2 linked regions of the Homo sapiens genome follow. The protein of the gene in region 2 interacts with the protein of the main gene of each other region in a pairwise test. Each region holds a gene or a part of one and is shown on either strand. Other genes may lie near its edges. The genes, in order: SS18 and MLLT10.

Region 1 (3,826 bases), on a different chromosome or scaffold from region 2:
CAACATTTTAACAGTAGACTAGTCTAAAACTGAATTTTCAAGTGATAATTCTTGTAAAAATAAGTATTAAATATCCACTTCCATATTTTAAAACAATCAGCACATTTTTTTGGTGATAAAAATACACTGTACAAAGCTTTACCGTAGCCCTGCTGCTGTCCTGGGTAACCTTGCTGCCCTGGGTACTGCTGCTGCTGGGGTGGATATCCCTGTTGTGGAGGTGGTCCCTGGTATGCATCTTGCTGTTGGCCATACTGTGAATTTCCTACAGGATAATTGGAGAAGAGGAAAAAAAACTGAGAAGTCTGCTTAAGTAACTTTTTTCCCTCTAAGATGCATAGCCAACAACACAAGAACAAAATGAAATGCCATATTGATTTTTAGAAGTTAACAAAACAAAGAAAAAACTCAAACCAAACAGAAGGATTTCGGCCAAACAAACTGCAGTTAAAGCCAATTTTGCAAGGTTGAACTGCAGCATTTTCAGCGTCTCTGCCATACGAGCATTACATTTACTGGAACATCACAGTCATAAGATCATGACTATGCTAAATAAAATAAAAAAGACAAAATTAAAGACAGCTACAAGAGCACACACTAGCTACACGAGATCAGCAAGCTGTTTCCTAAAGGCACTATACTTATATGTAAAATTATACATATGTAAACACACACGAGAAAAAAAAGTTTGATGGATTTATGTTCAAATAGAAAATTTCCACTGAGGAAAAAATTATCTTTAATGTTTTAGTCTTTTTATTATTGTTAGAAATGGCAAGTCATGGTTATACATTTTAAATATTTGTAAGGAAATTATTTTGATTGTTTTGGGCTCCCTGCAACTTTCAAGAAAGCCAGCAACTAGTATTCTACAAGAGCTTTGCATGGGTAGAAGTTGTCTTATGCAAGAATTTTCATTCCTGTAGAAGGGGATATATATGTGTATGTGTGTGAAGGTATATAGATACCTCCTTCGTAGTAATGTTGTGAGGAATCCTCATAAGGCCTATCGTAGCCTTGTTCAGGATACGACGGTTGCTGATAACCGTAATCATTATGACCTACATCAATTCGACAAGAGACAGGAAGAAACGTTAATGGCCACTGAGTGAAAACCCTAAAAATATTTAAACTTTCAGATAAAATTGAAAAAAAAGAAAAAGAAATGGAACATAAAAAATAATTTCAATTGCATTAGCCAAAGATTTACCAATGTGATTGTTTTCATATTGAGATAACGTGCAAATTTTTTTAAAAGCAAAAAGCAGTAGTTTTAGAAACATTACACTTATTGTCTTAAATCTGATAATCCTCATTGAGGGAAAAAAAACTATCTCCCATTTAAAAAAACAAAGAGAATAAAAGTCTTTCACATGTAAATAACCTAAATTAAATTAGAATGAACAAAGGAAGCAATTATCATATTTTGTCAAACACCTGTTCTGCTGGTCTCCAATTCCACAGCATATGCTAAAAACAATGCAAAATATAAAAGAGTTCCATAAGTTTTTCCCCTGAAAGAAACTGAAAAATTTTCAAGTTCTAACATTTACTTGCATAAAGTTAAGTATCTCAAAGTATCTTCAGATGCAAAATTATATATCTTAATGCTGCCATTTTGGAAATCTTTAGAAAATATTTCAAGTATCATAAACATACATCTTCATAAAATTAATATTGTGTTGACAGAGTATATCTTTAGTTTTAAAGCACAATAAATTTTACCTGCGAGATAATTGGACTCTAGTGAAAAATACTCTCACTCTTTTTTTTAAAGTTTCACTAAGAAAATGTAGGAAATAACCTTTTAGTTACCTAAAATCTAAACTCAATTTTACAAAAATGCCTAATTAAGGACACAGGAATAAAATTACAAATGAACATTATACTCAGTGCTCTAGTATTCTAATGTTCCCAAGCCACCTCATAAATACCTACATGAAGGGTTGGCAAACTATGGCCTGCAGTCTTAATATGGCCAGTGGCAAGTTTTTGTAAATAAAATTTTATTGGAATACAGTCATGCCTATTCATTTCAGTATTGTCCATAGCTGCTTTCATGCTACAATAAGAGTTCAGTAGCTGAGACCAAAACCATATGGCCCACAAAGACTAAAGTATTTATTATCTGGCCCTTTACAGAAAAAGTTTGCCAATTCCTAATCTATATATTTACTAACATAAATATCCGGACATGAGAGAAAAGAGCCAATGTTGTTTACAAATATTAATTGTCGACATAAATAGAATACTCTATGTAAATGTCAGATATAAAGTAATATACACCTATGCAAAAATGATACCCTTCAAATTAAAATCCACTAATAAAATGAATTAAAGTAACCTTAATGTTTTGATATTTACAAAATAACAAACCAATATATTTTGAACAGAAAGGTTATAACAATACACATGTCACATTTCAAGAGATACCCAGGATCAAAACAACAATGTCAAATTTAATTCTTTAAAATGTAATTAAAAATTAAAAAATAGAAACAATCATTTATTTTCAGCAGACTTCTTAATACATATAATTTAACAAAGTAGATTTCACGTCTTTAAAATACGTAGAGTCTACAACAATCTTACTAAAGTTTTTAATTTAAAAAAATCTTAATACCATGTTTACATATGAAAAGAAAAAACAAAACAAAAACCAATGTCCTTAAGTACAAATGTACCTTTATGTTTTATGTATTAACAAAAAATGACAGGTGAGATGTTTTTTCAAATATCCTAAATTGTATCTTCTTGCTAGCTTACATGGGCTGCTAGTCAATGGCTGCTAATACTTTAGCTTTAAGTTTCTTAGTTTCTCTGTTCAGTAATTTATATTTACATCAAAGGATCATATACATGAATAAGGCTTTTGGCAAACCCTAACAACCCACATCATTTTGTAATGTATTTCTGAATTATTTTTTCTTCTACACTGTATTATAAAATTTTCAAGCATACAGAAAAATTGATGAAACTGTACTGTGAAAACCTACTTGTATGCTTGGATTATTGCTATTCAAATTTTCCTGAAGTACAGTGCATCTTACTAACCAATTTTTCACAAGCCACTTTCTACAAAAAAACAAAAAACAAAAAACCCTAACTAAAAATCTTATTTCCAAATTGCCTTTCCCATTCTACTCAATCTCTATATGGCTATATTATGGATATAATTTAGTCTCCCAAATTTTTCTCAAAGGCAAGCACTAATGTAAACCTTAGTTTGTTGAGAAGTATGAAACATTAATTAAAATGATGAGACTTGGAAAAATAACTTGAGAACTATATACTCTATGTATTTGTACAATTAATACAAGTCAACTAATGGGTGAACTTTATGGCAGGTGAATTATATCTTAATGAAGCTCTTATTAAAAAAAAGTAAATCAATAAACATAAGCTTTGGCTGAAATCAAACAACCCTAAACATATTACAAAAAGATCCTTTTACATAAGGATTCCAATGACAGACTGTGATTCCTGATGGTACTAATGGAACACCTAAAATATACTTTGAATTAGATTATAAACTAATGCTATCATTGGTACTTTAGAGTACTGAAGTGTTTCAAAATTTAGAGGAAACAAATTGTTAGTTTCTTCGTCCTCACTGAAATGTTTTAAATAACTCTCTACATTAATATTAGGCAGGGATAGAAAATGGGAAAGTTAACATCAGGAGAGATTACCATCAGGGTAATATTGCTGGTTCATGCCTTCTGGAGGACCTTGTCCACCATGACTGTATTGGTCCCCGTAATAGTCTTCCTGGCCTGAGTACTGCTGTGGTGGGCCTGAAAAACCACAACCAGTCAAGATATAA
Region 2 (3,826 bases):
AACCCCTACCTGAACCAACTGGAGATGAGCCAACACTGAGGCTCTGTAAACTTCCATTCCTGAGCAATGTAGGAGATTTCTGCAGACTAGAGCTTGTTATGCTTCCTGCAGCTGATGCTACAGATGATGTTGGTGAAGCAGAAGAAACTGAGAGATGAGAAACATTCTCTTGATTTTTGTTTCCTTTGGGTCTGCCAGGCCCATGCTTACTTTGTTTATTTCCTTTCCTTTTCTTTTCCTTTACAGTTTCTTCTTCTATGCCAGAAGTTTGAGCCCGCTTATATCCTGCTGTAGGAAGGCTGGAATTACCCAAATCTCCAGGTGAATTTTCAAAGCTTTTAGGCTGTGAAGTAACAGCTGAGGTTGAAGGGAGGCCAATTAAGGTACTAAAACTATTTACCCCCCCTTCCTGGCTTCCAGACTCTCCTTTATGTACATCTTTGGTTGCTGATGACTGTTGGGAGTGAGAGTAACTGTCATTACGCAGATCTGAGTCTGTAAAGCTCAGGAAATCCTGGGGAGACTGCACTGAACTTCCAGAAGATGACTTTACACTGCCTGGAGTTCCTGAAAAACTGCCTGTAGTTTAAAAAAAAAAAAAAAAAAAAAAGTTGGGGGGTGGGGGGGACAGAAAAATTGGATGCTAAAGTTCCCATAAGCAGCAGACATGATATAATCATTAAAGAGAAGAGTTTAAAAAAATTAACTACAACACTTAGGACATTCGTATATTAAGACTTGTCAAATTTATCCCCAAAATTACCTTTAAAAACATGTGTCATTTTATAGATGGTATTAAATGTTTACTGTGGAATTGCAAGCTATTACTTAAATAATTATTAAGATATAAGATGCGCTTTATTTCACCTACCTTTTGCCACAGCAACATTCCGCAATTCTCCCCCAAACACCTCATGTATGCCTGAGGAAGGACTACAGAACAGTAGTCTCCTTTCCACAGTCATGCAAGAAGACCTAACAAGACTATAATCTGACTCTAAATGTCTAGGGGAACTTCTTTTTTGAATATTGAAGGTATGATTGAAAATGTTCCCAATATACAATAAGAACTTAAGAAGTTTCCTAGGTTATGAGTTCTAAGTTTTAACTTTAAGACATACTAGTGATTGTTATTGTTCAGCTGAATCTACCATAATAGAAAATGGATTTGACAAAATAATGATCATATGGAATCTAATCTATATCTCACATTCTCCCAATCCAATTTTCATGGAACTTCATAAAGAAATCAGCCATCACTGCTTATTCTTTCTTTAAAGAACATGAGTACCCCACCATACCATTCTAAGATATAAGAAACTTAGGCTGGGTGCAGTGGCTCATGCCTGTAATCCCAGCACTTTGGGAGGCCGAAGCGGGAGGATCATGAGGTCAGGAGTTCAAGACCAGCCTGACCAACATGGTGAAACCCCCGACTCTACTGAAAATATAAAAATTAGCCGGGGGTGGTGACGTGTGCCTCTAATCCCAGCTACTCAGGAGGCTGAACCCGTCTCTACAAAAAATTTAAAAATGAGCTGGGCATGGTGACGCATGCTTGTGGTCCCATCTACTTGGGAGACAAAGGTGGAGGCAAAAGCTAATTGAGGGTCTGAAGCAGGAAGAATGCTTGAGCCCAGGAGGTCAACCTTGCAGTGAGCCGTGATCACATGACTGCCCTCCAGCCTGGGCAACAAAGCAAGGCCCTGTCTCAAAATACACACACACACACACACACACACACACACACACACACACACTGAAAACCTGGAAAACAGGTTAGTGTGTTAACCTGTTAAACTTCAAACTTTATAACAAATGCATTATTAATCAACAACTTATTTACTGAGACCTATGTAAATCCCCTAAAAATTGTCTAGTATTTGTTTATCTACTAAAAAATGTAAACCTTGATTGTATTTATTTATTTAGTGGGTTTTATTGTTTGTTTTTGGTTTTTTGTTTGTTTGTTTTTTGAGGCAGGGTCTTGTTCTGTCGCCTAGGCTGGAGTGCAGTGGCACAATCACGGCTCACTGTAGCTTCAACCTCCCTGGGTCAAGCAATCCTCGCACTGTAGCCTCCTGAGGAGCTGGGGCCACAGGCAGACATCACCAAGCCTGGCTAATTTTGTTTGCCTGTCCAAGGAGACAGGGTCTCACTCTGTCACCCAGGCTGAAGTGCAGTAGTGCAATCTCAGCTCACTGCAGCCTCAACCTCCTGGGCTCAAGCAATCCTCCCACCTCGGCCTCTGAAGTAGCTGGGACTATAGGCATGTGCCACCATGCCTGGCTAATTTTGTATTTTTTAGAGAGACAGGGTTTTGCCATGTTGCCTAGGCTGGTCTCCAACTCCTAAACTCAGATGATCCACCTGACTGAGCCTCATAATACTGGGATTACAGGCATGAGCCACTGTGCCCAGTTCACACCCAGCTAATTTTTAAATTTTTTGTAGAGATGAGGTCTTACCACATTGCCCAAGCTGGCCTCAAGAGTTCTGCCCACCTCAGCATCCCAAACTGCTAGGATTATAGATGTGAGCCACCACGCCCGGCCAACCTTAATTGTTTTTAATGTTTAGGAAATATAAATAAAAAACATTTATGGAAAAGACACCAGGAACAGTATCTCACACCTGTAATCCTAGCACTTTGGGAGGCCAAGGCGGGAGGATCACCTGAGATCAGCAGTTCGAGACCAGCCTGGCCAACATGTGAAATCCCATCTCTACTAAAATACAAAAACTGGCCAGGCATGGTGGCATGCACCTGTAATCCCAGCTACTCAAGAGGCTGAGGCACAAGAATCACTTGAACCTGAGAGGCGGAGGTTGCAGTGAGCCGGCCACTGCACTCCAGCCCAGGCAACAGAGCGAGATTCCGTCTCAAACAAAAAGAAGGACTGTTCTACAGAACTCAAAGCAAAGCTCCAGCTTTTATTATTTTTCTCCCCAATTTTAAGCATTATTCCATATCTAGTTAAACATTAAAATTACAATTCAACTCTGGAAGCACAAATCATATTATAAAAGGAAAGAAAAAGTCCCTATTAAAAAAATTTAATAGGAAACACTATCTTTAAAGTAATCTTACTAAAGCAACTAATCATATAATAATCTAGAACATCCATTAGTTATAAGTTCAAAAACAAACCAATTATTTTACAAAGCATAACTATTATTAACCATCTTAAACACAAGTATTTTAACTAAAACATCACTAATACCTTGAGGAAAAGGGCTAGCTGCTGACACAGTTGTTCCTGGATTTCTTCCACCACCAGGCTTTCTTCCCCTTTGACCTGAGCTGTGAGCTGAAGATTTCTTCCCTTTGCCCTCTGACCCTCTAGTCTCTGAAACATCTTTTCCACTAGAGGTGTGTGCAGAGACTTCCTGGAAATTTGCATTTGTAAATCGTGCAGTAGTATCTTCCAAGCGCTTCAATGATCCAGATATAGAGTTGTTGCTAGTGCTTGTATAAGTCTAACATTTTGATTCAAAAAGGGAAGGAAAAAGAGTTGATTACATTTTAGTTACAGAAAACAATGGGTGCCACATTAATAAGAAGAACTTGCAGAATAAACACAAAGTTTCTGTTCTAAAAATAAGTCAGTTCACCTAAGAAAATCATCCAAAAACAATTTAAGTCTATTATAATTACTTTTAAAAAAAGAAAAGAAAAGAAAAAGCCTACATAATTTAAAGATGGCTGTTTCAGGATCAAATTGCAACAACTAGTAAAAGTATGTATTAGTTATATTTATGAAGTGACACAGTAATACTGAAGATACTCATTTGTCAAGCAACATCATTTTTTTTTAACAATGTC

The links.
Region 1: the proteins of MLLT10 (region 2) and SS18 interact in a two-hybrid assay, tested with the Homo sapiens proteins (one study listed by BioGRID).

Annotation. Positions count from the first base shown.
Region 1 is NC_000018.10:26,034,863-26,038,688, forward strand, and holds part of SS18 (protein SSXT), read right to left. Parts: intron 3,798-3,826; coding exon 3,693-3,797; intron 1,062-3,692; coding exon 969-1,061; intron 266-968; coding exon 143-265; intron 1-142. UniProt on the Homo sapiens protein: Appears to function synergistically with RBM14 as a transcriptional coactivator. Isoform 1 and isoform 2 function in nuclear receptor coactivation. Isoform 1 and isoform 2 function in general transcriptional coactivation.
Region 2 is NC_000010.11:21,670,103-21,673,928, reverse strand, and holds part of MLLT10 (protein AF-10), read right to left. Parts: intron 3,481-3,826; coding exon 3,225-3,480; intron 580-3,224; coding exon 10-579; intron 1-9. UniProt on the Homo sapiens protein: Probably involved in transcriptional regulation. In vitro or as fusion protein with KMT2A/MLL1 has transactivation activity. Binds to cruciform DNA.